2 separate regions of the Homo sapiens genome follow, and region 2 is linked to region 1. The links come from fine-mapping of genetic effects on gene expression. A gene starts in region 1. The other region holds a variant in brackets. All regions are shown on one strand. Distances are from middle to middle. Region 1 holds the start of TSPAN13 (tetraspanin 13). Region 2 holds the start of LOC124901593 (a long non-coding RNA gene).

The links. PIP is the estimated chance that this variant, and not a neighbour inherited with it, causes the effect.
Region 2: its variant is fine-mapped to the expression of TSPAN13 in testis (GTEx, PIP above 0.99).

Annotation. Positions count from the first base shown.
Region 1 is chr7:16,745,448-16,760,665 of GRCh38, reverse strand. TSPAN13 (tetraspanin 13) reads right to left here and starts at 6,911. Exons shown (of 6, transcript NM_014399.4): 1 at 6,636-6,911. The coding sequence starts at 6,698. RefSeq lists a silencer at 4,028-4,322.
Region 2 is chr7:16,777,775-16,792,992 of GRCh38, reverse strand. It overlaps TSPAN13 (tetraspanin 13), which reads right to left. Exons shown (of 6, transcript NM_014399.4): 4 at 15,082-15,195; 5 at 13,877-13,990; 6 at 8,457-9,576. The coding sequence ends at 9,502. It overlaps LOC124901593 (a long non-coding RNA gene), which reads right to left and starts at 12,645. Exons shown (of 2, transcript XR_007060228.1): 1 at 11,210-12,645; 2 at 10,447-10,809. It overlaps AGR2 (anterior gradient 2, protein disulphide isomerase family member), which reads left to right. Exons shown (of 8, transcript NM_006408.4): 8 at 36-1,182. The coding sequence ends at 85. The variant A/C (reference allele first, on the strand shown) is at 8,640.

The DNA of each region.
Region 1 (15,218 bases):
TTTGAAATGCACTACTTCAATCCATGGACCACTGCCCTTCTCCATCTACCCTCACTAACTTGTTGGCAAGTCCTCTCCCCTGAATAACAGTGTGGTTACTGTAAGTGCTACCTGACATTTCCACTTGGGTTTCTTTAGCATCACGTCCAATACTGAATCCTCTCATTCATCCCAAAGTCTGCTCCACCTGCCATCTTCTCCATCCTAGTTAACGGCAAATCTATCCTGCCAATTCCTTGAGCCTGAGCCACAAATCATAGTAATCTGTGACTTGTCCCTTTCAGTAAATCAGGTCGCCCTACCTCCAAAACACTCTCAGAATCTATTTCTTTTAATTCTGTTGCCACCATACTAATCCAAGCCTCCATCATCTCATGTGCAAATTATAGCAATAGCCTTGTAACTAGTCTCAATGCTCCCACCTGTGCCATCTATAATATATTCTTAACTCAAAAGCCATATAGCCTTTTACATAAAAATCAGACTATATCAGTCCTCAAACCTAAACACACCATTGGCTCCCCATTTCACTTGGTATAAAAGCTCATGGCCCTATAGTGCTCTCCTGGGTCCACCCCTGACTTCTCTGACCTCATTTCCTGCATTGTACTGCTTGCTTGCTCTGTCCCACTCATATTTGACTCATCTGTCCCTTGCATAAACCAGCAATACTCCTCCTGGCCAGGCACAGTTGCTCACACCTGTAATCCAAGCAATTTGGGAGGCCAAGGTGGGAGGACTGCTTGAGGCCAGGTATTCAAGGCTAGCCCAGACAACACAGACCCCGTCTCTACAAAATATTTTTTAAAATTAGCTGGGTATGGTGGTACATGCCTGTAGTCCCAGCTACTAGGTAGGCTGATGTGGGAGGATCACTTGAGCCCAGGAGACAGCTCTCTGGCAGTGAGCTGAGATCACGCCACTGCGTGACAGAGCAATACCCTATATCAAAAAAAAAAAAAAAAAGAAAGAAAGAAAAGAAAAAAAAGCAGAAATACTCTTTCATCAGGGTCTTTTCAAAGACGATTCCCTCTACCTGAAACACTTTTCTTAGATAACTGTTCTTCATCTCCTTTAGGCCTTTTGATACAGTTTGGATATTTGCCTCCTCCAAATCTCATGTTGAAATGTAATCCCCAATGTTGGAGGTGGGGCCTGGAGGGAGGTGATTCGTAGGGGTGGATCCCCCATGAATGGTTTGGCACCATCCCCTCAGTGATAAGTGAGTTCTCCCTCTGAGTTCACGTGAGATCTGGTTGTTTAAAAGCGTTTGGCACCTCCCCCTCACTCTCCCCATGTGACACAGGGACTTCCTTTCCCCTTCTGCCATGATTGTAAGCTTCCTGGGGCCCTCACCAGAAGTAGATGCCAGCACTATGCTTCCTGCAGAACCATGAGCCAATTAAACCTCTTTTCTTTATCCAGTCTCAGGTATTTCTTTATAGCAATGCAAGAACAGTCTAACACCTTTCGTACACTGTTTTCTTTCCATGCAGGCCAAGCATGACCACCATATGTGAAGCTGTGTACCCATCCTCCCACATCCGCTCCACTGCCCCACCTATCTTTCCTTTTACTCCGCTTTATTTTTCTCCATAAAACTTGTTTACCTTCTAATACGATATATAATTTACTTACTTATTTATCATCTGTCCACCCCCATAAATATAAACTCCATGAAGGCAAGCCATTGGGATTTTGTTCACTGCTATTGATGCTCAATTAATATTCATTATTAGAATAAAAAACAGAAAATAACTTGGGCACATCTCAAACTTACATTAGACTCACAAATAACCCCAAACAGTTACAATTATAATACAATTTTACAGGAAGTAGATTCATTCAAGAGAAACGGTAGAGGAAACCCACAGACACGTTTGAAAGGTTGGCCAATTATGTAAAAAAAAAAAAGGGTATTACAAGAAATATTCGATTCTACAGTGGATAAATAAAAGTAATTCCTACTTAATATTACTACTTTTTAACCTAATGCCAACTTTCATGCTTTAAAATATTTAGCTGTGCTTCTGCACTTAACCTTGATCATTGCAGACTAAAAGTAACAAAATATTGTTTTATACGAGTTTTCTTTATGCAAGTTTTACCTGTGAAGAATAGCTGGAAAGAAGAAGCCAAGTCTATAAATTCAGCAAAATTCAACTTTTTCCACCTGAAGCTGTAACAACTTAATTTTATTTCTATTATACATCTAAAGCATTTATATACTATCTGATTTTATCCTTACACAGCTTCATGAGGGGACGACTGAAAAATATCATCACCAATTTATATATGAAGAAACTGAAACTCAAAGTAAGCTGTTTGTCTAGTAACAGAGTTGGAAAAGTTTCAGTTTTCTTCATAAATCCAGTGATCTTTCTTCCCATAATTTGTATGGACATATGTTTTTTATCTAACAGATTAAAAACAGAATTTTCTTCCCATAAATTGTATGGTCGTATTTTTTTATCTAACAGATATGGCACACTTTATCTACTATAAAATGCATCCCAGGCCGGGAGCATTTTATAGTAGATAAAGTGCTCATGCTTGTAATCCCAGCACTTTGGGAGACCGAGGCGGGTGGATCGCCTGAGGTCAGGAGTTCAAGACCAGCCTGGCCAACACGGCGAAACCCCGTCTCTACTAAAAATACAAAAAATAAGCTGGACATGGTGGCGGGCACCTGTAATCCCAACTACTCAGGAGGCTGAGGCAGGAGAATCGCTTGAACCCAGGAGGCGGAGGTTGCAGTGAGCCAAGATCGCGCCATTGCACTCCAGCCTGGGCAACGAGAGTGAAACTCCATCTCAAAAATACAAATAGAAACAATAAAATGCATCCCAACTTCAGAGGTGATAAAAATATAAATTAAGGTGTTTATGAAGTAATTCAGTATAATTTTTATGCTGCATGAGAATTTTTCTCAAAACAACCAAAAGTATAAGGAAAAAGAATCACGAAAAAGAGAAAGAAACAAACATGGAAAGATGTTATAAGAATGAACACACACAGGAGAAACAAAACTGCAACTTCTGAAATTTCCCTCCTGATTTTAAAACTGGCAGGGCAACTCTTAAAAAGTCCCAGTAAATATATGTTTGGTCATATTTTTCAGTTTGGTTCTATTTAACAAAGTCAGCTACCTTTTTTTTGGTTGTTTGTTTTTAATAGAGCTTTCTTCTCTGGTTAAGAAGCACAAGGAGACACATTATAAAGCTTCAAAATATTACGTATTTTAATACAAATTTTATTTCATATTTTCTAAAATTTCCCACAAATCACTAAGCATAATTTTCAAAAGTTTTTTTCACTACTTGTCAAAATCTTTTCAGCCTAAAATATTCCTATAAACTATTAAAAATAAGTCATTTTCCCAAATCATTTTCATTTTTATGTATATCCTAAATGGTATCAAAAAGACCCACACACTATTTCTACATTTCCTTGATTCAATCACACCTCCTTTATTCCCCCAACTTCTCTAACCCACAAATATCTGCCACAGTCCTAAATTTTATGGTACCTAAAGTCAGTATATTCCTTATACGCCATTTAATTTTCCCATTCCATGTCTCTCATCTAGATCCTGTCTTCACAATGCATTTGCCTTTATAGGTATTTATTATTTCCCACAGTTCTCAAAAGAGTGCACACAGTAGACAAAAGTTTATTGACTGAATACAATTCCTGAAAACATATGTATAAAAGGTAGTAAATAAAAAAGAGCCTTCATAAAAGCACATTGATTTTTACGCCCTGTTTGGTTTGCTGCTGTATTTCCAAACTGAGAACAGAGCCTGGCACACAGTAGGCACTCAATAATTGTTGAATGAAGAAACTGAAAGTTTCTTTAAATGCAGGAAGCTCTGAGGCAAGTCATTCTCTTAGAATACTGTGAAGGTGAATTCAGGAATGTAGCTTCCCCCTTTTCTTCTATATTTACAAACTGTTAACACATACTACACTAATTTAAGCTTGTCCAGTACTGGCGATCCTATTAACTAAAATAATCAAGCCATAAACAACAAGAAAAATCAACTGTTAACATTTTGCCTAGTGATCAAATTTCCTTGTTTGGGACTTCCAACTTGTTTTTAGTGACATGCTTTCTGAGCTGATCATGAATGTGGCACGAATCTCAGGCTCATCAGCAAGCCACCAGAGCATGTGGACAGTTCAGCTGATACAGTCCTAAGTTCCTCAGTAAAATGCTTCAACACAGCAATGATGATGTTTCAGGCATCTGCCGTTCCCATATGCAATCCTGGTTTAACCAACACTTTTAGAAATGACCTCAAATGTAATCCTGTAGCGTTGAGCACATTTTAGAGGCAGTGACCAGGGTGGGATTAGAACCTACAAAGAATGTTTCTATTCATGACTTATAGAGAAATGTCTCCCAAGTCTTCATGCTCAATCCCATCCCCAACTGCCTCACATTTTTTTCATCTTAAAATGTTGAGAAAGAGATCAGGGGAGAAATAGAAGCTAAATAATGGCCATGGCACATTTTCAGCATCTATCTAAGACTTGATCCAACTTTTACCTGTCACTTGCCTCCACTTTAAACTGCTGCAGTTATTTAAGCCTATTTACAATGTAAAAGAAGCAAGCAGCCACTAATTCATTTTAAGAAATGTCCCTTTGTCTAAAAAGTCTATGATTTAAAAGGGCTAGCCATTTTTATTGTCCCGTGAATTTCCAATTCATTAAGTTTTACTGCATAGCTATTAAAATCAATAGAACACACACTTTGAAGGTCAATAATTTAGAATAGATATTAAATAGTCTTAATATGTCCCTTTAGAATCACCTTTCTTTCGCCTCACTTTCCTGATATACTCTAAATACAACTAAAAATGATGTCTAGAAAGCAAGGAACTTCATTTTAAAATAACTTGCCTTTTTAAAAAAGATTATACATTGATATAGACCCTTCAGTGAAGTAAGTATGCAAAGTAGACATTCCACTCTGTGTAAGCAGGCACTGTAAGACTAAGTGTCTGGCAAACAGATGACTAAATCATTGGCAGAAAAAAAACAGAACTCAGGTCACAAAATAAGGAATTTAAAGTTCCAAGCAGGCCACTCACACTGATTTAAAAAAAAAAAAAAAAACCCTAGAGAACTGGTCAGCATTTACTTAATAAACAGCCAGGGTGATAAGCATACCTCAGGGTGATACAGATGAATTTTGATCTGAAACTTGACATGTATCTCCAAGGAACTGTATCACCAGGTGTTCTAAAATTTTTTTCCCAAGTCTACTATTAATGACCATGTTGACCAGATTCTTACTAACTAGCCATAAAAGCGTACTCAATGCCTGTTTCTGTCTTGCCTTCAAAGCTTGCAGTCATGTTCACATACAAAGGAACAGTAAAGGTAAAATGACCCAACCTCCTTCTCCTGTTGGTGACCACAAGGCAGCCTCTCTATTCCAAGGAGGTAATCTAAGCTTGCACAGATGGCCTAGCTCTCTGCTAATGCAGGGGTGCTGGGTTTGTTTTCAGGGTGGGTGCTGCAAAGCGCCAGGTATATTTATAGAAGGGAGCAAGACTACTATGGAGGGATGATGACAGAAGAGGAAGTTTCTTCCGCCCGGTAGAGACAGCCTGTGGAAAGATCTGGATTCCACAGCCTAGGTTCCACTCCTGACTCGTCAACTACCAGCTATGTAAACTTACTAAAACCTTTTTGGTCTGTTACCTTATGTATAAAATGCAGATAATGCCCCATTCCCTCAGAAGGTTGTCAGAATGATGAACGAGCATTGTGTATGTAAAACCTGGGACGTGATAGGCATTCAATAAATGTCGATCTGTCCTGCCCATCCTCCTGTTCACCCAGAATTGCGCCTCAAAAAATCACAAAGAGAGCCTGCAGCGTTAAAACTAAGAGGCCCAAGCTGGTTGGCAGGGAAAGAAACGACTTGGGTGGGGGCTCGCTTATTTCCTGGAGGACTTGGTTTAAAATGGAGTTAGGATATTGATCATGGACAAGACACACAGAAAAAGCACCAAGTACTAGCAAAACTGACAACAACAAAAACAAAAAGACATCCCTTTACTGTGAGCACGAAACAAACTTCGGAAGCAGCGGACATCCTGTGAACCTACTCAGTGGCCTCAATTAAAATCCCGAGGGTACCAAGAGCTAACCCAGAGGCACACCAGCCATATGCCGCCTCGTCAGTTTCAGGCCACGCCATTCCGCAAAACTGTCCGCAAGCCCTGACGGCTCTCGCGCCTCCACGCCTGGCCCAGATGCGTCTGGATGTCAGGAGCGAGCGGCAGAAGGGTACGGGGTGGGAAAGCGGAGAGGTCCGGTTGAATGTTTGAAAAACAAGGCGGTGGGTGAGGGGGCGGGGTGGAGCAATGTGGCAGAGACGCGGCCAGCGAGCCTGAGAGACCGCGGCTTCACAATGAACGAAAGGAAGAGACTGCGACAAGCGCCGGCGCCCGGTCCCCGGCGGGGACGGATGGTGAGGCCGGGGGCGCGCAGACGTGGGAAGCCGGGAAGGGGGCGCGGGATGCAACGAGTGAGTCGCTGACCAGGCAGGGAAGCCAAAGAGCTCCCAAGCAGGTGCAAAGCCCCCAAGCGAGCAGGAACGGACTGGGGATACTCACGGTGTAAAGCAGGTTGAGGGCGCACAGGCAGTTCTTGGAACACGCGAAGCCCCCGCAAACCATCTTGGAACCTGTGGTTGCCGGCAGCTGCACGTAAATTCGACTCCGGCGGAGGTTCCCTGACAGCTGCTTTGTCCTTGCCTTTGGGGCCTGGCCCAGGCGGGGCAGCAACGCAGACGTGGGTGGGGGGCCGGGGCCTGGGGCTGCAGTGCGCGGCGCGCGCGCGGCGGCGGCTCGGACCCGCTTTGGAACCTGCGGCCGCCGCAGCTGAGCCGGAGCAGGAGCCCGAGCCCCGCCCAGCCCCTTCGTCTCGCCCCGCGCGCTGATTGGCCGCTGGCAGGGAACAAAGGTAGAAATATGCAAATAAATGCGCTCCGCCGACCGGGATCCGGGAGGGGCGGAGCGGTCCCGGGGCGAGGGGGAGAGGGCCAAGGCCGTGTGGGAGGGAGCCCCAGGCCAGAGCGGCGGCCTTGGTGTAGTTTCCCCAGGAGCAGGTGAGGAGGGAGGGCGGGGCTCGGAGGAGATCCACGCTGGCAAGGAGAAATATGACAGCACCTCTGGATTCTTGGCCCTGGCAGATGACGTGGCACCATTTTGAATGAGATTTCAAAACTAAGCACCTGGCCTTGTTTGAGGGAAGGAAGGCAGGAAGCAAGTAATGAATGAAAACATGTGAAAGATTTAAAAGAGAACGAAGTAGAGGCAAATGAAAGGGAGAAAATAAGTGAAACAATAAAAAATAAAATAAAATCCCTGCTTCTCTCAGAAAATAAGATATGTGCCCTATAATTGTGACCTGGACAGGTCAGACTTATCCTACAAAGATTTGCAAAATACTAATAAACTTTATGAATACATGCATGCAAAGGAAAATCAAGAGCGGGAGAAGGTGGGGATGGTTAATAGGTCCAAAAAAATAGAAAGAATGAATAAGACCTACTATTTGATAGCACAATAAAGTGACAATCGTTAATAAGAACTTAATTGTGTATTTTAAAATAACTTAAAGAATGTAATTGGATTGTTTGTAACTCAAAGGATAAATGTTTCAGAGGATGGATACCCTATTCTCCGTGATGTGCTTATTTCACATTGCATGCCTGTATCAAAACATCTCATGTACCCCGTAAATATATACATCTGCTACGTGTCAACAAAAGTTTTTTAAAAAATTTTAAAAAGAAAATCAAGAGAGATTATTTTTGTGTTCTGGTCGTGAATTTCAATAAACTTATTTTTTCACAAAAATAACTGAAAATCTTCAAATAACTCAGACTTCACCTCAATTAATTCATTATCAGTTTACTGCTTCTCTACTATAGAAATGCATCTTGTATCCTTAATTCCTCACCTATAAATTGAGATTTTAGAAGTATGTCAAGCACTTTTTGCATAGTGGCTGGCACAGGGGAAGGCCTCAATAAATGTCAGCTAGTATTCATAGATCTGACATTTTGTAAAGGCCTACTGTGTTCCAGGCACTAAGCGAAGGCAATAAAGGTTTATTTACTTCATAGTAGTTTCTACCAAAGAAAAAGGTTTTATAAAGAGATTTGCAAGTTTACAATACTATATCTAACCTAAAGGTTCATACGGAGTAAATTATGTAATTGCAAATGCTAAATTGTATTAAATTAAATTAAACATTGCAGCTGATTAAAATAATTCGTCTTCTTAGAATTCTCTGCTCCCTCTTCCAGCCTCTCCTTCCCTCCCCTGACCCCACCATACCAACAAGACCTCATTAATTTGTTAGGCTTTCTATTCCACATTAACCTTTTATATACAGCTAGAAATATTTCAAAAACTAACCTGGAAAATGATCCTCAAACACAAACAATGCTTTGATGATGCTCAACTTTCCTTTTTAATAGCCAGAGGTTTACAAAAGATGAGGCATTGGCAGGGAAATCTATTCATTCTCTTCCCATTCCTGGGTGTCACCAACATTAGTACCACTTCAACTATCACTCAACCAACTATTGCAACTCTCTCTTTGGCTTCTGCATAATATCTTCACTATCTCCCTATAGGCTGAATCACTTTGTTTTCCCAGAGAAGTACCACCTATCAGTCAGGGTCCCAGCAAAAAGGAGATGACTCGTTCAAATAGCATAACTGAGAAGAATTTCAAAAAGGGACTATTTTCAAAAGTGTGGACAAAGTTAAAGGAAACCGGCTGGGTGCGGTGGCTCACACCTGTAATCCCAGCACTTTGGGAGGCCGAGGGTAGTGGATCACCTGAGGTCAGGAGTTTGAGACCAGACTGACCAACATGGTGAAACCCCGTCTCTACTAAAACTACAAAAATTAGCCAGGCGTGGTAGCGGGCACCTGTAATCCCAGCTACTTGGGAGGCTGAGGCAGGAGAATCACTTGAACCCAGGAGGTGGAGGTTGCAGTGAGCCAAGATCGCGCCACTGCTCTCCAGCCTGGGTGACAGAGTGAAATTCTGTCTCAAAAAGAAAAGGAAACCAACAAAGCATGATGAGGCAGCTCAGAGATAGTAAGAGCAGGAAGTTCTAATTACCCCTAAGACTAAGGGGGTGATTTAAGGGAACAGTTACAGAAGCCAGGCAAGAGCTATAGTTGTAGGAGAGTTGTCTGATAGGAGATACGGCTTTTGATAGAGGAAACAAAACAATGTCTGAAAATAGGAAAACAAATGGACATGTTGCAATTTCTCCTGATTTGGATATAGAAATTTTCAAAAGACCATTTGTTCCCACCCTAATAAGAACAAGCAGTCTGGACAACATAGTGAGACCCCATCTCTACTAAAAATTGAAAATATTAGCTGGGTGTGGTGGTGCATACCTGTAATCCCAGCTATCCCAGCTACTCAGGAGCCTGAGGGGGAAGGATTGCTGGAGCCCAGGAGATCAAGGCTGCAGTCAGCTATGATGGCGCCACAGCACTCCAGCCTGGGTGCAGACCAAGACCCTGTCTCAAAGTAAGTAAAAACAAGCTAGATAAGCTACCAAATCATACTTACAACAAAAAACTATCGAAGAACTGAGGGGCTAAAGGCACTAGAGGAACTAAAATCCAAGAAGTGATGAGACATTATTAGAGGGGGAAAAAAACTCATAGTCACTTTCATCTCTTATAGACTGGCTGTGGAAGGGAGAAACTACCTTTGAGAGGGATAAGGAGAAACTAAATGACTATTTAACCATCTTCTACTGCCCCTACCTGGACTATGTGACAGTTTATAATCCAGAGCCCCAGCTACAGAATGACTGCAACTATTTGCCAGCTCTAACCCATGGGCTTTCTTTTAAAACAAGACATATAAGCTACAAAGGCCGTGGTCAGGCAAGATTGCTGCATTAGTTCGTTTTCATGCTGCTGATAAAGACGTACCTGAAACTGGGCAGAAAAAGAGGTTTAATTGGACTTATATTTCCACATGGCTGGGGAGGCCTCAGAATCATGGTGGGAGGCGAAAGGCACTTCTTACATAGTGGTGGCAAGAGAAAAATGAGGAAGAAGTAAAAGCAGAAACCCTTGATAAACTCATCAGATGTCATGAGACTTATTCACTATCACGAGAATAGCATGGGAAAGACCGGCCCCCATGATTCAATTACCTACCCTGGGTACCTCCCAAAACATCTGGCAATTCTGGAAGATACAATTCAAGCTGAGATTTGGGTGAGGACACAGCCAAACCATGTCAAGTGCTAATAGATATTCTTCATCTCCAACTATTTCAAGGTGTATAAGCCTTCCCCAAATGCAAGATAGTGGCTAAAAGCTGGGGTAAAGTGAGGAAAAATAAGAAAAATTCCAGCAAAGCAATCTGGTTCTTTAACTCCAGGACTAACGTAGCAGCAGAAAAGAAAACTCTCTCTATGGTACACTGAAAGAGCCCTCCAATGGCTGGAATAGGATTCCACACAGGATAGCAAGAGATCTCACAAGATACAGAAAGCCAAGGATGTGAGTGGAGAGCAAAGACTATTCCCCAGCAAACAAAAAGGTAGCAGGCTGTAAAGCACAAAGATCTCCCAAGGCTCAGATTGCTGGTGGCTAGGCTGCAAAGCACGAAGAAATCTCTATGCAGACCTCCTTTCTGTAAGAGGAAAGTCTTGATCATGCCTTCAAGAATATTTGAAGCCAATAATGAACTGAATCTATTAAACCTATAACAAACCCTAATTCAGCTTAACTATAGTTTAGATGGACTTAGGCAACCACACCAGCAGCCTGACAGAATAAGGGATGTGCCATTTTCTGGGAGTAAATATTATTTACTTCAGGCTCTATTTTTCTTCAAGTTTGCAAGGCCACATTTTGGAAGAGCATATGTGATGAGACGTACTGTGGTGTCTTTAGAAAATAAAATCTGCCATAGGCAATGTCCTTCTTTCATATTATGCCTCCATATTGTTCCTTTGATGAAAAACTGCCTTTTTTTAAGTGAAAAAAAGAATGGGACACTGGACTACAGTTCTTCTCACAGAGTTATACTGGAGACTAAGCTATGAGATTACATATATTTCTGAGTGGAAGGAGAGCTTTTATTTTATTTTATTTTATTTTTAGATGGAGTTTCACTCTTGTTGCCCAAGCTGGAGTGCAACGGCACTATCTTGGCTCACAGCAACCTCCACCTCCCGGGTTCAAGCAATTCTCCTGCCTCAGCCTCCCAAGTAGCTGGGATTACAGGTGCGTGCCACCAAACCCTGCTAATTTTTTGTATTTTTAGTAGAGACGGGGTTTCACCATGTTAGCCAGGCTGGTCTGGAACTCCTGACCTCAGGTGATCCACCCACCTCAGCCTCCCAAAGTGCTGGGATTATAGGCGTGAGACGCCGGGCCTGGCCAAGGTTTTATTTTTATACAATAAAGTTGTCTTTATCCACAAAATCAATAGAATGGATAATTGAATTGTATTTCTTAAAAACTGGCCTTCTAAACTGTTTTAATTTAAGATCTTTAAGATGTAGAGTACTCCTCCAATGATTAGAAGAGACACAAGATGGAAATAAAGGTTTTATTACTTACTGGGTACCTGCATGCCTGGAGGCCACACACAGAGATATCCAGGAGTCTGCGCAGGGGGAGAGAGGGGGGTCTGTGGGCAAGTGCCCTTATTGGTTCCGGGGGTTTCCCGTGGGGAGTTTTAATTAGTGAGTTCATAACAAGCAGGCATGACTGCCAGGAGGTCACACAGTGACTGACAGGTGGTCATTGTGGCATGTCTGCACAGTCCATGCAGGTAGTGAGGCTCAGCGGGCCAGTCAGGCAGGCTGCACTGATTAATAGCCGTCCCACTGGGAGGTGGTCACCAGGAGGAAGCTGTATAAGGTAGATGTGTGGATTGGCCACATTGAGGAACTGGGAAGGTGTAGAACTGGAAACTGAGCCCTGCTTCTGATATGAGTCCAATTTCAAAATGTATGCCGTGGCAGCATAAAATTATAAGAATATACTACAGCCAGGCACGGTGGCTCACGCCTGTAATCCCAGCACTTTGGGAGGCCAAGGCAGGTGGATCAAGAGGTCAAGAGATCAAGACCATCCTGGCCAACATGGTGAAACCCCGTCTCTACTAAAAATACAAAAAATTAGCCGGGCGTGGTGGTGGGCGCCTGTAGTCCCACCTACTCAGGAGGCTGGGGCAGGAGAATCACTTGAACCTGGGAGGTGGAGGTTGCAGTGAGCCAAGATTGCGCCACTGCACTCCAACCTGGTGACAGAGTGAGACTCTGTCTAAAAAAACAAACAAACAGCAAAATATATATATATATATGTATATATACTACATAAGCAAACTATTTTTAACAGTTTTCAATTAGGAATAACAAAGACAAACATCAATTTTTCATATACTTTCTTAGTCTCTGAATAAATCTTTAATGTGAGATGACCTTCTAACAATTTAGGAGATCGGTACGCTTCCTTCCTCCTCCTTCTCCTCCTCTTCCTCCTCTTTTCCCACTCTTCCTCCTTTCCCCCTTCTCCTCCCCTTCCTCCCCTCCTCCTCTTCTTCCTCCTCCTTCTCCTTCTTCTTCCTGCTCGTTTAATATGTTTTTGAGGCCGGGCACAGTGATTCACGCCTGTAATCACAGCACTTTGGGACGCCGAGGTGGGTGGATCACCTGAGGTCAGGAGTTCCAGACCAGCCTGGCCAACATGGTGAAACCCCGTCTCTACTAAGAATACAAAAAATTAACAGGGTGTGGTGGTGGGCACCTGTAATCCCAGCTACTTGGGAGGCTGAGGCAGGAGAATCACTTGAACCCGGGAGGTGGAGGTTGCAGTGAGCCAAGATAGTGCCACTGTAACCCAGCCTGGGCGACAAGAGCAAAACTCTTCTCAAAAAAAAAAAAGTATATATATATATATATATATATATATATACTTTTTAAAAATGTATATACGTATATATACATGTTTTTGAGTCAGGGCAATAACAGAATTCTTGTGCATTAGTCTAGATCTTCTGAGAAGCAGATGCCAAAACTGGGTTAGATGTGCAAGCAATTAATTAGGAGAAATGTCCATGAGGGGAAATAGGGAGGGAACTCTTGGAGGCTGGGAGAGCTAAAAGACCACAGTGCAGGTTTGACATCTGTGAAGGAGAGAGAGAATAAGGCAAGAGAAGAAAGGAAGGGGAGAGAGAGGAGGGAAGGAAGGGTCTATGACTGCAGTGCAGTTTTAAGGAGATTTGGCAAGGCCAACAGGGAGTCCAAGCCAGATGTCAGAGAAATCCCACATGCTCTCCTGGAATGACCCTGCCTTAGTGTTCCTGCCACGCTGTCACAGGCTGGAAATATCAGCACAAATGCTGTGATGGATTTCAGAGTATAACATGGGACTGGCTTCATTTATGCTCCCCACAATAGATCTGAGAAGTACATTTTCTTGAAAAATAATTCTGATTACATTTTTTCCCTGTATTCTACAAAGATTTCTCTAGTCACATTTCAAACCATCTTTCAGTTTTGCAGTCTTCATCATTTTATCAGGGAAGAAAATTCTCTCACTTCACTGGGTAATCAATTTCAGATTTTAATAATTCTTTTCTTTTCTTTATTCTTTTTTTTTTGTGTTGCGGGGGACAGGGTCTCGCCCTGTCGCTCAGGCTAGAATGCAGTGGTGCGATCTCGGCTCACTGCAACTTCCGTCTCCCAGGTTCAAGCAATCCTCCTGCCTAGTTGGGATTACAGGCACGTGCCACCATGCCCAGCTAATTTTTGTATTTTTAGTAGAGACAGGATTTCACCACTTTGGCCGGGCTGGTCTTGAACTCCTGACCTCAGGTGATTGGCCCGCCTCAGCCTCCCAAAGTGCTGGGATTATAGGCATGAGCCATCGCACCTGGCCAGATTTTTAAAATTCTTATTGTAAAACTCTTTTCATGGTTAAGGTTTAGTTGACATTAACTCAAATTTATGAAATTCTTATTATTCAAACTTAAGGTCAACATTTATTTTTAAATAATTCAACATGGCAGTCAGGTGAAGTGCCACATGCCTGTAGTCCTGGTTAATCAGAGGGCTGAGGTGGGAGGATCACTTGAGCCCAGAAGTTTGAGTCCAGCCTGGGCAACATAGGGAGATCCTTTCTCTAAAAAACAAACACACACAAACAAAAAAAAAATCCCAAATATTATTCAATCCTTTTCAGACAAGACCATAGGAGGAAAAAAATAATAATAATTGAACACTAGGATCTGATCGTCCTCAATAAATCCTAAGCTAAATTACTCCTAAACTGTTATACAGCACTGTTACCGACCCTACCAAAATACTTTCTTGACCTCCAAAATATAAACATGAAATTAGATAAACTTATAATTGCTTATCTAATTGTTTATCATAGATAAGTTATAGCCACATAAAATATCAGTGGTATAGTTAATTTTAAATTGCTTCAACTATAGTCCACATTGCTATAAACTTCAGTGTAATATTTTCTTAGCTAATCAAATATTATTATTAAACAAATTGACCATTTAAAAAATATCTGTCAATGATTTTAAGTGGATTGATTCGGTTAAATTTTTTCTAATGACAGATTTTTTATTACACCTTTTTCCATTTTTCCTCTGATTCTGCTGCTTCCTAAGCAAACAAAGAAAAGAACTGGAAACTTTCCTTTGTAATGATTTGCAATCTTTAGGATTGAATGAAGCATAGGCAGGGAGCTTCTTGGCTGACAATGAGACAAAGAAGCTGATCAACAACAGAAGTCTCTCTCCTTCTAAGTCTACCCTTTGCTCTATTTTCTCTGTGTTATCCTACTCTTTTGAACGTATTGCCAAACATTAGCCATTAAATGCAACACATTCATTGCTCCTACAATAATAGTAAGTTTCCCTTTTGCTATGCAGGATGTGTCACTGTTCACACCAGAGGACTTCAAACCAGAATTCAATTTCAGAAAATGTTTTTCTTCCAACCACAAATTAAACATGAAGTTTTTTTCTGGCTTTTACCAGCCAGATGTTGGATGTAAATTCTTTTTTTCTTTTTCCTTCATATAATGCCAGCAAGAATAAAACATACATATCTATTTGACCATCTGGTTAGATTATATCAGCACTAACATCCCAATTCTAAATTTCTA
Region 2 (15,218 bases), 32 kb before region 1:
GGTGTCTTGACTCTCCTGCTTTTATCCCCCATTAGTGCTTGACAACATGAAGAAAGCTCTCAAGTTGCTGAAGACTGAATTGTAAAGAAAAAAAATCTCCAAGCCCTTCTGTCTGTCAGGCCTTGAGACTTGAAACCAGAAGAAGTGTGAGAAGACTGGCTAGTGTGGAAGCATAGTGAACACACTGATTAGGTTATGGTTTAATGTTACAACAACTATTTTTTAAGAAAAACAAGTTTTAGAAATTTGGTTTCAAGTGTACATGTGTGAAAACAATATTGTATACTACCATAGTGAGCCATGATTTTCTAAAAAAAAAAATAAATGTTTTGGGGGTGTTCTGTTTTCTCCAACTTGGTCTTTCACAGTGGTTCGTTTACCAAATAGGATTAAACACACACAAAATGCTCAAGGAAGGGACAAGACAAAACCAAAACTAGTTCAAATGATGAAGACCAAAGACCAAGTTATCATCTCACCACACCACAGGTTCTCACTAGATGACTGTAAGTAGACACGAGCTTAATCAACAGAAGTATCAAGCCATGTGCTTTAGCATAAAAGAATATTTAGAAAAACATCCCAAGAAAATCACATCACTACCTAGAGTCAACTCTGGCCAGGAACTCTAAGGTACACACTTTCATTTAGTAATTAAATTTTAGTCAGATTTTGCCCAACCTAATGCTCTCAGGGAAAGCCTCTGGCAAGTAGCTTTCTCCTTCAGAGGTCTAATTTAGTAGAAAGGTCATCCAAAGAACATCTGCACTCCTGAACACACCCTGAAGAAATCCTGGGAATTGACCTTGTAATCGATTTGTCTGTCAAGGTCCTAAAGTACTGGAGTGAAATAAATTCAGCCAACATGTGACTAATTGGAAGAAGAGCAAAGGGTGGTGACGTGTTGATGAGGCAGATGGAGATCAGAGGTTACTAGGGTTTAGGAAACGTGAAAGGCTGTGGCATCAGGGTAGGGGAGCATTCTGCCTAACAGAAATTAGAATTGTGTGTTAATGTCTTCACTCTATACTTAATCTCACATTCATTAATATATGGAATTCCTCTACTGCCCAGCCCCTCCTGATTTCTTTGGCCCCTGGACTATGGTGCTGTATATAATGCTTTGCAGTATCTGTTGCTTGTCTTGATTAACTTTTTTGGATAAAACCTTTTTTGAACAGATCTTTTGGCATTATTAATTTTTCCAGGGATATATTTTCAATCTTTTCTATCTCTCCTAGTGACTACTATCATTAGTAGGTGTTGAGCATATACTGCTGATTTAATGACATACAAATCTTCAGCAAAAATATCACAGGTTAATCAGCTCCCTTCTCACAAGTAGATAACTTACATGTGCTGAAAAAGGTAAAACATTCCATTTAAAAAGATCTCTGAGGGATAACAAGAGGAAAAAGAGGTTTCCCTTCCATAAACAAATATTTTAAATGACAAGTTCTAAGTGATTCAAGTTTCTCCTATAGTATAGCAAAATATTTTTTCATTGGGCGGACGTGAAATAAGGTTAACTTCTTAAAATGTATTGAATGGCAAAATATCTTAACACATACAAATACTTTTTAAATATAAATAAATATTTAGGAAATCAAATGTTACAGCTGTAAGGAAAATAAGTCCCCCTTTTAAAAGCATTGAAGAAACACAAAGCATGAGTCATTAATTGACTTTGTCCCATCAGTCTCCTCCACCACTGAGAATTTATCCTAAGGAAATCATTCAACAGAAACAGTTCTGTCAAGATGCCAATGGTAACATTATTTAAACGTACCACAGAAAAGCAACCTCCCAAAAATATAATGGCCACATGGTATATTAAGACAAAATGCAGTTTTTTAATCCTGTCTAGGTGAGTAGTCATAAAAATTCTTCTCTCCCTCCCCCTCCCCCTCCCCCTCCCCCCCCCCCCCCTCTTTCCACGGTCTCCCTCTCCCTCTCCCTCTATTTCCACGGTCTCCCTCTCATGCCGAGCCGAAGCTGGACTGTGCTGCTGCCATCTCGGCTCACTGCAACCTCCCTGCCTGATTCTCCTGCCTCAGCCTGCCCAGTGCCTGCGATTGCAGGCGGGCGCCGCCAGGCCTGACGGGTTTTCGTATTTTTTTGGTGGAGATGGGGTTTCGCTGTGTTGGCCGGGCTGGTCTCCAGCTCCTAACCGCGAGTGATCCGCCAGCCTCGGCCTCCCGAGGTGCCGGGATTGCAGACGGAGTCTCGTTAACTCAGTGCTCAATGGTGCCCAGGCTGGAGTGCAGTGGTGTGATCTCGGCTACAACCTCCACCTCCCAGCCGCCTGCCTTGGCCCCCCAAAGTGCCGAGATTGCAGCCTCTGCCCGGCCGCTACCCCATCTGTGAAGTGAGGTGCGTCTCTGCCTGGCCGCCCATCGTCTGGGATGTGAGGAGCCCCTCTGCCTGGCTGCCCAGTCTGGAAAGTGAGGAGCGTCTCTGCCCGGCCGCCATCCCATCTAGGAAGTGAGGAGCGTCTCTGCCTGGCCGCCATCCCACCTAGGAAGTGAGGAGCGCCTCTTCCCGGCCACCATCCCATCTAGGAAGTGAGGAGCTTCTCTGCCCGGCTGCCCATCGTCTGAGATGTGGGGAGCGCCTCTGCCCCGCCGCCCCGTCTGGGAGGTGAGGAGCGTCTCTGCCCAGCCGCCCCGTCTGAGAAGTGAGGAGACCCTCCGCCTGGCAACCGCCCCATCTGAGAAGTGAGGAGCCCCTCCGCCCGGCTGCCACACCGTCTGGGAAGTGAGGAGCGTCTCCGCCCGGCAGCCGCCCCGTCCGGGAGGGAGGTGGGGGGTCAGCCCCCCACCCGGCCAGCCACCCCGTCCGGGAGGTGAGGGGCGCCTCTGCCCGGCCGCCCCTACTGGGAAGTGAGGAGCCCCTCTGCCCGGCCAGCCGCCCCGTCCGGAAGGGAGGTGGGGGAGTCAGCCCCCCGCCCGGCCAGCCGCCCCGTCCGGGAGGGAGGTGGGGGGGTCAGCCCCCCGCCCGGCCAGCCGCCCCGTCCTGGAGGGAGGTGGGGGGGTCAGCCCCCTGCCCGGCCAGCCGCCCCATCCGGGAGGTGAGGGGCGCCTCGGCCCGGCAGCCCCTACTGGGAAGTGAGGAGCCCCTCTGCCCGGCCAGCCGCCCCGTCCGGGAGGGAGGTGGGGGGGTCAGCCCCCCGCCCGGCCAGCGGCTCCGTCCGGGAGGGAGGTGGGGGGGGTCAGCCCCCCGCCAGGCGAGACGCCCCATCCGGGAGGGAGGTGGGGGGTCAGCCCCCTGCCCGGCTAGCTGCTCCGCCGGGAGGGAGGTGGGGGGCTCAGCCCCCTGCCCGGCCAGCCGCCCCATCCGGGAGGTGAGGGGCGCCTCTGCCCGGCCGCCCCTACTGGGAAGTGAGGAGCCCCTCTGCCCGGCCACCACCCCGTCTGGGAGGTGTACCCAACAGCTCATTGAGAACGGGCCATGATGACAATGGCGGTTTTGTGGAATAGAAAAGGGGGAAAGGTGGGGAAAAGATTGAGAAATCGGATGGTTGCTGTGTCTGTGTAGAAAGAAGTAGACATGGGAGACTTTTCATTTTGTTCTGTACTAAGAAAAATTCTTCTGCCTTGGGATCCTGTTGATCTATGACCTTACCCCCAACCCTGTGCTCTCTGAAACATGTGCTGTGTCCACTCAGGGTTAAATGGATTAAGGGCGGTGCAAGATGTGCTTTGTTAAACAGATGCTTGAAGGCAGCATGCTCGTTAAGAGTCATCACCATTCCCTAATCTCAAGTACCCAGGGACACACACACTCTGCCTAGGAAAACCAGAGACCTTTGTTCACTTGTTTATCTGCTGACCTTCCCTCCACTATTGTCCTATGACCCTGCCAAATCCCCCTCTGCGAGAAACACCCAAGAATGATCAATAAAAAAAAATAAATTAAAAAAAAAAAAAGACAAAATGCACTATGTTGTCATCCATAAAAATAATAAACATAATGGCAAAACAGAAAAGGCCTAAGTAAAAAAGAATTTAAGACCTTCTATGCTATAATTGCAACTACAGGAAATGTGTACATACAAGGTTAAAAACAGAATTGAGGTCAATCGTGGTGGCTCATGCCTGTAATCCCAGCACTTTGGGAGGCGTATCGCTTGAGCCCAGAAGTCCGAGACCAGCCTGGCCAACATGGAGAAACCCCGACTCTACTTGAAATACAAAAAAATTAGCCGGGCACAGTGGCCCATGCCTGTAATCCCAGCTACTCGGGAGGCTGGGGCATGAGAAACCAAGGGAGGCGGAAGTTGCAGTGAGCTGAGACCATACCACTGCAATCCACCCTGGGTGACAAAGAGAGGCTCTGTCTCCAAAAAAAAAAAAAAATAGAAGATACAAACATGGTTGTTCTAAACTCATTGAAATATTAGCAATGTCTGTTCTTTCTACCAAATCCCTCTTCTGTCATCTCACAATCTATCATTTGCATTTAAATAAATTTCAAGTGAAAGTATATCTTGACTACTTCTCTGACTACAGAGAAGTAGAAGAGTACTAGAAGACTGAAGAGTGCTATTTCAAACAGCCAAATAAAAATGTTAATAACATAGTGGGAATATAAAATGGTGCAGCCATTTTTGTTTTGTGGAAAACAATATGGTGGTCTCTCAAAAAATTAAATACAGAACTACCATCCAACCCAGTAATTCCACTCTTGGGTATATGCTTATGAACTAAAAGCAGGGAACAGATATTTATACACCCACGCTCATAGCATTATCCACAATAGCTAAAAGGTGGAAGCAACTCAAGTGTCCATCAATGGATGAATGAACAAACAAAATGTGACATATACATACAATGAAATATTATCCAATCTTGAAGAAAATTCATGGCTGGGCGCAGTGGCTCACGCCTGTAATCCCAGCATTTTGGGAGGTGGAGGTGGGAGAACTGCTTGAGCCCGGGAGTTCAAGACCAGCCTGTCCAACATACCAAGACCCCATGTCAATGGAAAAAAAGAAGAAGAAAGTTCTGGCATATGTAACAACGTGGATGAACCTTGAGGACATTATGCTCAGTAAATAAGCCAGTCACGAAAGGACAGCTACTATACAATTTCACCCATATGGGGTACCCAGAATCGTTTTCATATAGAAAGTGGAGTGCAGGTTGCCAGGGGAAGAGGGGAATGAGGAGTTATTGCTTAATGGGTACAGAAGATTAAACGTTATGGAAATGCATGGTGGTGATGGTTGCATAACAATATGAATGTACTTACTGCCACTGAACTACAAGCTTATGAATGGTTAAAATGATAGCTTTTATGCTATATGTATTTACCACAATAACAAAAATTTCAGTTTTATCTGAGATTCAATAGCTTAGGGAGAAAAAAACAGGAATTAACTGTTAAAAAAATGTAGCTAACATAAATCATCTGTAAACGTCATTTACACAGACGGTCAACATGCCTAATTAAACCATTTTTACCAATTTCGGAACAACAGTCTTCTTCAAGTGATCTTCCATGACTGTCTAAATCTGTTTTCTTTCTTTCTTGAATTCAGCAATTCTAAGTAGTCTACTGAGAACCCTCTAACTAGCAATCACTGATAAGAATACCAGTCAGGAGAAAAATCATTAAAAGCTCTAAGGCAAGAATAGAACTTCCTTCAGTTCAAGGACCTTGACTTCAAAGTCCAAGTCAAGTCAGCTTAACCTATTAAAAGGCTACTTGTCAAGTTATGACTCCCTGATCTATGAAAAGCAAGATCCTAAAAGTAGGCAAAGTGGTTTCACCCCCCAAGTGATGTCAAAGTCCATTCTTTGACATATATTTTAACTCACAGGCCTCAAATCCTCATTTGAAAATGAATTCCAAAAGCTGGTTTTCCTAAGGAGAGTGATGAGAATTGGCCTGCCACATGGCAGAGTTTGATTTTCCCCTTTCTCATATTTTCAAGAGGTATTTCAATGACTACAATTGCTCAGTTATGACATTTAAGAAAAACATCCACATGACAAGCCCCGTTCCCTTCTCTCCCTCTCCTCTTCTCGTGGAGTGGAGGTGTTGGGGAAAGGGTGGATTGCACTCTTAAATTTATTTAGAACACATTCACTAACACATATTGTAATTTCATTTGGCACAGAAAGCCTGGTCTAAAAATTATTTTAGTCCAAAACGTACCAAATACAGAACAAAACTTTACACCAATCCCTTCACTTATCCAGAACCCTGGAAAAGCTGGTTTTTAACTTTATTGTCATCTCTAATAAAACAATTCACACATGAATGATCATGTCTGTACAACCACAGTGACTAAAAGTGTTTTTCTCCTATGAAATACTATGGAAAAATTTGATTCTAACTTTTTTAGTACCAGCTAAAAATTGAAACAGTTTGACGTATTTAGTGTATTTGCAAAATAATGAATAAACTTTAACAGAGTTAAACAAATATTTAGAAAAATTGTAGGAGGAGGTTTTGGCTCAAGGAAACGAAGAACTAAAAGCCACACTTCTGGTTTCCTTTCCTTCTATGAAAGGTTCCATTCAGCAGCATGTAACTTAGGTTGAACATGCGAAACTGGTTTTCATACCAAACACATTGTTGCTTAGATAACAGAGTATCTGAGATGAATTTAAGCTACAACAAGCTCAGATTTTAGAAATTATAGCTGAACTCTTTCTTCCTTTGTATTAGTATTATATTCTCTATATAAAATTTAACCCTTAACATCAAGGCTGACCGGGCAAATGTGCCAAAAAACATTCCTATAAATGGAATGTGCAAATAGAGAAGAGATTTTTTTAAGCAGCACAGTTCCTTTTTAAAGAAATGCTAGGTTTGGGAAGAAAGGACATCTAGGGTCTACCCTGATCTGAAACTCATCCTCCTCTGACACTACGTGTTTATGGCAGCATTTCTGTGCCCTTGGGCAGTGGCCCTCTCTAATCCTGGGATCAGGATGACCTTTGCAGGATCATAGCAGGGCCATCTGGGATTCAGGACTGACTTATTCAGAGGGTTTTCCACTAAATATGCACCCCGACACAAAGATCCCAGGAAGCATCACAGAAGGTGTTAGGTAATCTATCACCTTCAGATCTGCCAGAGAAAACAGAAAGCCCAGACTCATTTGACAAGGACAACCTTGGTGCTTGAAAATGTGTATTTCTTGAGTGGCTAACTGTCATTACCCACTCTTATAATCCCATAGTTTAGTAGTCCTAAATATTCATACTTCCCAGACCCTGGCTTTCTTTTTCATTAACTTATTTTACTAAAATCTTAACATCTTAGATATCTTTACATTTTGTTTTATTTAATATTTAGATATACATGTTTTTCTTAGCCATAATGATTTAAAATCCTAATTTAATGAACTCAATTTCATGAAGCCTTGAGCACGATTAAATGCATTTTGTCAGCACCAGGCTACTTTCAAAAATGTGTTTAGACTTCTCACCCTGACAGCTGTTCTCTTTGCACTTTGCTTTTTAAGTAACACACTTGAGGAAGGCTGACATCAGTCAATCTATATTTGAACAGAAGAAGAGACCTTCCTTTGTTAGAATTTCCAGGATGCATCATTTAACTTCAGCATGAAGCATACTGTGTTGACCCAAATAAGGGCACTGCAATTAGAGCACAAACCAAGGTAAGGGCTGATTCTCTATGGAATAGCCTTTCCACATATAATCATTTGTACCAAGGAAAGTATTACATTAGGAGATTCCAGGGCCTTATAATAATTTCAAAATGTAACAAAACAAACATGGAAAATGCCAAATGCCTTAAAGGAAGACAGAATTTTAAAACTTCCCACCTCGATGGCAGGTTAATAGGTGCAGCAAACCCCCATGGCACATGTGTACCTGTGTAACAACAACCTGCACATTCTGCATTTGTATCACAGAACTTAAAGTATAATAATAAAAAATAATAATAAAATCTCCCTTCATATGTCACTTATAATCCCATCTTATGGTATAAGTGGGGACACTGTTAGGGCTACCCCAGAGCTCATAGGACATTGTGAAAATGGCACAATTCTGTTTCCTTGGAAAATTAGCTAGTGTTGCAAAGTCACGGAAGTGACAAACCTACAAAATGCTCTAAAACTCTACAGATCAACCATTTACCCTCTCTCGGTCTAAAAACCTAGTAAGACAATAAAATACCACATGCTACCTAGAATGTAAAACAAGAAATTAATAATTTTTCGTAATGGGAAAGAACGTATATATTTTTCCCAAATAAATATTAATGGCTTCTCTTTTTAGAAAAACTTTTTCTCACCATGGAGATAATATTAGCCACTGAAACATTTCAAGAAAGGATTTGAGGATGACTACCAATAGACATTAATGCTGGAAATTTATTTCCACAGCTTGATTATACACTAAAATAGCAATACCCAGCTCTAAGTCCAACAGAGAGAAGCTAAAGCAGAAAGAAAAGAATTCCACCTCACTTAATTCATCGATCAATTCTTCCATTACTTTCTTTTAATTCAAACATGCATACACAAAGAAAGGTTTCTGTCCTTTAATTTTTTAACAGAATATACAGAGCCACACAATACGATTTCAATTTCAAATTATGGGAGATCATATTCAAATATGCTTAGGTTTGACAAGTTGCTGTTACAATACTGAGAA[A/C]TTTCATGAAAACGGTATTTAACAATTTTTAAGATAATCAAATATCTTTTTGCTACGTGGGCCAACGCATTAATACTAACTTGTTTAAAAATGCAGTCTTTTAGACTTCAAATTATTATAAAACAATATCAAGATCATATAGATATACTTCCTGATTACTCAAAACTCGTTCCATTCTGATGGAGGCTGAAGGTAAATGTTATTATACATTAGAACATTTCATGAAACCACTTCTCCTTTGCACTTACCTGTAAAAGTCAAAAATTAAACCACAATTTCCTAAGACATAACTATTTCTAGAATACATTGGTGTAATCATAAAAGACTACAAGTAAATTATCATTTTTATACTAACACTTTTTACCACAACAATCTTTCCTAAAAAGACCAAAAAAAATTGGGAATTTGGATTTCCCTTAACATAACAGGATCTCATACTTTCTGATTTTAATAAATTTCCACTCTTTTTCCAGTAGGAACTATCTACACAGCACAGTGCTACATATAATTATACCAGTGAGATGTACGTTCAGATTCACCATATAACCAACACAGTGGTACCATACAAAGTTTTTCTGCAGGTAAAAATGCTAAGAAAGGCCACAGTGGACAGTGCCCGACAATGAATACAGTAAATTCCAGGTGCCACCGAGCTTCAGAGACCACAAGTTTCAAATATTTTTCAGCAACGGAAAGAAAAAAACATGTAGAGAAACATAGAGTAAAAATATATAATTCCACTATCAATAAGGTACTTTTCCAGATAGTGTTTCCTTCCTTAAACTGGCAAATGGAGCTTAACAGAAAATTACAGAAAGTGAACAAGATCATAATACGAAAGGAAATCTTCCTTGTTTTCTCATCAAAGGAATGCACTAGGATTCGCGCGGGGGTCTTTCTGGTTCCTGTATCTGTAGGTCAGCCAAACACCCAGGATCTGGAATGGGGAAAAAAAAATAAAGTAAAGAAAAAGAAAGTAACATTTATGTATATTTATTCAGTTGATCAATAAAATAACTTTGGACCCTCTCAATCGCTTTGCATCTTTTGTTCAACGGGGAGAGATTTTTTTTCTTTTTGAAATGAAGTAAACCAAATGACGGGCGCTGAGAAAAAATTAAAACGAACACTGTGGTAAACTGAATGACTGGCCCTGAAGGATGTCCATGTCCTAACCCCTACGACCTGCAAATATGTTACCTTACACAGTAACAGGGACTTTGCGGGTGTGGTTAAGGGTCTCAAGATAAAGAGATTATTACCCAGGTGGGCTCAATGATATAATCACAGGGGGACACATATGACGGAGGCAGGAAGGACAGAGTCAGAAACATGGAGAGAAGACACCGTGATGGCAGAAGTAAAGGGAAATAGAAAGAGAAGCTGCAACTCTCCTAGCTTTGAAGATGTAAAAGGAGGGCTGGTGAGCCTGGCCTCCAGAAGGTACCTTTATTTTAAACTTTTGATCTCCAAAACTGTAAGACAATAAGTTTGTGTTGTGTTAAGCAACTATGTGTGTGGTAACCTGTTACAGCAGAAATATGGAAAACTAATACAAAGTCAAAGTAGTCTAAATAGCTAAAATAGCATATATTTTGATAATTCAGGAATAAACTAAGTTCAGTAAAATTTAAGTAACAGCAAAAAATCTTAAAATGAATAAATTTTCCAACACAGAAATTTAAAATGTTATAATTCCTACCTCTCTTGGTAGGAAGAGATGAAGCTGTTACTGTGCCATTTCCCGCACCAAGTTCGCTAAATTGTTAGCCAGTATAGTTTTTTAAATTAAGAAATGTGTGCTCTGTTTCTGTTTCAAAGTTGGTTTATTTTAAATAAATGAAAATTGTAACTCTTTAGGCTAAAAAAGATACAAAATTTTAATAGAATAAAATGAGTTTTAAACTGTATCTCCCACTTTATACGTGTGCCAACTTTTAACCTAAATTTTGTTTATGTGACTTTGTAGCCACCATTAGCCCTTTTAAACTACTTCTAGAGAGTTAGGTAAGTCCCAGATTCTCTCCACTGACCACAATAAGAATCCACAAATTACTGTAAGATTCATAACTGGCAGTGTTTATAGCTGGTGGACTGAGGTCTGCAGGTTGAATCAAGGAAAGGTAAGCCTGATTTGAAGATGTGGAAAGTCATCTGTTTTGGAATCCATCTAATGGGGAAAAAGAAATGTATTTAACAAACATAACAAAGAGTTCTTTATGAAAGGTACCATTCTACAAACTACAAATTCATATAATCCCCCCAATAGCTTTCACAAAATAGATACTATCAATATCGTCATTTTACCAGTGAGGAAACTGAGGCAACAAGAGGTTAAACAAAATAATCACACAGGTCCTCAGTGGTAGAGCCCATGTTCAAACCTGGAGCCCATAAACTACCCCACTTTTGTGGTTTTATTCGGTAATCTGACATGTCACTGGCTGTTCTCAGCCACACTAGCTGTTACAACACGGAAATACTTACATATCTGTAGTTAAACAACTATTTCTTTGAGTCCCCCCGCCCCACCTCAACCTGCCCAAATATCACTTGCCAAAGCTCCCCACCTTGGAAATTTTCAGCACAGGGAGCTTCTGGTCAGAATTTTTGAGGATGTTAACATTTTGACTATCACCCCTGGATATATGCTGAGAGGGTAAATCACAGTCCTTGGGGGAAGAAAGCAATCAAACAAACTAAATACTCATAATCCGGAGCCACATTTTACCAGAATTGTATTCCTCCAACTTGGCTATAAGCGCCAAAAGGGGAAAATCTCTCCCCTTCCTTGCCCGACTGTTCAGAGAGGGATAGAAAGGAAGGCTACATCCAAAATGCAAAAAGATCAAAACTGGATAATTATTGAACTTCAAGCTTACAAAAGTGCTCATGATTAAGAGGGCACTTTTCAAAGGTAACTTTGATTAGATGTCATCAACTCTGCGGTCTCTAGAACCTACACTCAGTGTGCAGTAGGTCACCAAAATATATTGCTCATAACATGAAAATGTATGTAGAAAAATAAAGTACATGTAGAATATGCAATAAGCTGGTACTCATTTTACTAAATATAGAACGGGCAGAAGGAAATATGCCACAATATAAATGATTGTTTCTGAGTAGGTAATTTTAGTAGCTACGTCTAATTTTTCATCTTCATAATTTTTTGTAGTTTCTCAAGTTACTACAAAGAACATATATTAATCATAGCTTTTTTCAGATTCTAAATCAATGTTTCTCTCATGGTTTAGGTTTGTTTAAAGGTATAATAAATAGTTCAAATCAAATCTTTCTATTTCACCTATGAGAAGAAGTTGTCAGCTAAGTAACTGCATCCCTTCAAATTCTGAGAATCTGTGATTCTGTGAATATTGAGCAAAATATAAACTTAAAAAGTGAGAGCCTACCACTATCACTATCTAAAAAACCAGGTTGCATAAGTTATAAAAATCTCTAGCCAGATTTCCAAAGGAGACAGTATGTAAGATATAAAGCAGGATTCCATGAAAGAACACTTTAGAAATCTAAGACTCATGAGTTCTATTTTTAAAGAACTCCTACTTAAAAAATAGCATAACTGAAGGCAGTGTGATCTGATGACAAGAAAACTGGGCTGCTCAAAAGAACTAAATTCTCAAAATAAATTCCAGATATAAAAAAGAAGCCACGTGGCAAAATTCTGATAACTGCTGACTCTAGCTGATGTGTAGAGAGAAATTACTCCAGTTTTTCTCTATCTGTATTTTTAAGTTTTCATAACAAAAATCTATGGTTTTTAAACAAAAGAAGAGAGAAATGCACAGAATTCTTGTCAAGCTGTATATCATTTTTCTAGAATTAATGTCACAACCAACTCACAAGTCAGATAGCTCTTTTCTGAGAAACAGTGAAATGAAAAAATGGTCAGACTAAAGAGGGAAGTCAGAAGGAACTTTAAAAAAATGAATATTGGGCCAGGTGCAATGACTCACACCTGTAACCCCAGCACTTTGTGAGGTTGAGGTTGGCAGATCACTTGAGGCCAGGGGTTCCAGACCAGCCTGGCCAACATGGTGAAACCCTGTCTCTACTAAAAATACAAAAATTAGCTGGGTGTAGTGGTGCATGCCTGTAACCCCAGCTACTCGGGAGGCTGAGGTGGGAGAATCGCTTGAACCCAAGAGGTGGAGCTTGCAGTAAGCCGAGATTGCACCACTACACTCCAGCCTAAGCAACAGAGCAAGACTCTGTCTCAAAATAAATAAATAAAATAAATAAATAAAAATAAAAAATGAATACTAGGCCAGGCACGGTGGCTCATGCCTGTAATCCCAGCACTTTGGGAGGCCGAGGTGGGCAGATCACGAGGTCAGGAGATCCAGACCGTCCTGGCTAACATGGTGAAACCCCGTCTCTACTAAAAATACAAAAAATTAGCTGGGCGTGGTGGCGGGCGCCTGTAGTCCCAGCTACTCAGGAGGCTGAGACAGGAGAATAGCGTGAACCCGGGAGGCGGAGCTTGCAGTGAGCCAAGATTGTGCCACTGCACTCCAGCCTGGGTGACAGAGCAAGACTCCATCTCAAAAAAAAAAAAAGAATATTAATCTTGGTCTTTTTTTTTCCTATGCTGTTAATGACAGCCAAATGTACATATTTCATTCTTGATGAGAAAAAAAGAAACTGAACTTGAATAAAATATATGATAAATACACATACATAAATATTGTACTATATATTAATTGCATATTATACACAATACATTATACACATATAGACATTATGCATAGGTTTTAGAAGGCTAGGAACAGGGGAATGAAAAATGGTGTAGGAAGGCAATTTTTCAAGATATATATAAAAAGATATATAATCTTTTTATATATGTATGTCTGTGTATTATAGACATTAACATACATATTAAACAATGTGAATGTCCTACCTTTTCCAAATTAAATTTAAAATTATAATTCATCACACAACTGTAGAAATAGAAGAGACCCTAGAGATAATTCAATCTAATCTCACTCATTAGTTCATTAAATTTTACATAAGAAGAGACAGATCAAGCCTTTCACCCGGTCCTAAAGTTGGTGCTATTAATAGACTTGTAAGATCTTCTGATTCTAAACCAAGTTTCCTCTTTTTACAGTGCTAGTTCTCAATGAAAATGCTCACTGATAACAAGAATCAAGGCCCTTTGTCATGCAAAACAGGAATCTCTGTGACAAAGGAGGAAAAATATTGTTATTTGCACATACCTCTGTAAAACTGAAGAACAGGCCAATGCCACCAACAAATCTCAAAACCTCTCCAGCATATTCTCCTATGATTGGAGCACATGGCGAGCACGAGTGGTCACTTTTAACACAGCTCTGCACCAATTAAAGTAAAAAAACCTTTATTTCAAAATACATTTATAAAAAGCCCATAAAAACTGCATACACACAAAATTAGTGTCTAAGAGTATTATATCCAATTTGAGGCCTTGGTTTTTTAGTGTGCAAATCTCTAACACAGCCCCCAAGACTCCCACCCTCCCCTCTCAATGGTGTACACACCCTATACAATCACTGCTCTTGAGTATGCGTGGAACTTGTGAATATGATAGGACAGTCACTTCCATGTTACCTTACATCAGATAAGACTCCATTACGCATTACAAAAGACTCCATCTTAACAGAATGGAGAGATTCTCACAGTGACTTTGATGCTGCCACATTGTGAAAGAGTAACATAGGACCTGAGAGCAGCTTCTAGTTGCAGAGAGAGACCTCCAGCCAACAGGCAGCAAAAAAACAGGGGTGGTCCCACAGCCACAAAGACTGAATTCTTCCAACAACCACTGAGCGTGGGGAGAGGACCCCAAGCTTCAGATGAGGCTGCAGCCTCAGATGACACCTTGATTTCAGCCAGGTGAGCAAAGGACCCAGCCAAGCCTGACCCAGGGAAACTGTGAGATAATAAATGGGTATTTAAAGCCACTAAATGGATATTTAAAGCCAGTGTGTTTCTATTGCTGTGTAATAATGTGTTACGCAGCAACAGAAACATAACACAGACCCCCTACAAGGAGATAATCTCACAAAAGAAGCCTCACTGAGGAAATATTCAGCTTAGGGCTCAGAGATGTGATAACAGGAGTTTCCCCAAAATATGAACACATGAACTGACGTACTATTATTTCTTTCACAACTTGTTCTAGGAAGAGAAGGATGGGAAGAAATTAGGGACAATAAACCATTAGCATCTGTGTCCAATAGGGCCTTGAAATTCTCAACACTCTCTGGAGTGGGTATTTGAGAACAGGCAAATGATATAACAGAGGACATGGAAATATAATGTAAATATATACATAAAATAATCCTGAAAATACAATTCAGCATCAGAAAGTCCATTTCTTCCACATTAATCATTATTTATCTGTAATACATTTCCAAAAACATATATTATACAATGTACTTACAGCCAGACAGGTGTCATTTGGGTTAACACTTCGGAACCCACAGCAGTTTAGATTTCTCTGGATGTCATTTCGAGCACTTGCCGTATTGTTCCAACCAACCTCCAGAAGCTGACCCTAGTAAATGTGTTTAATATATA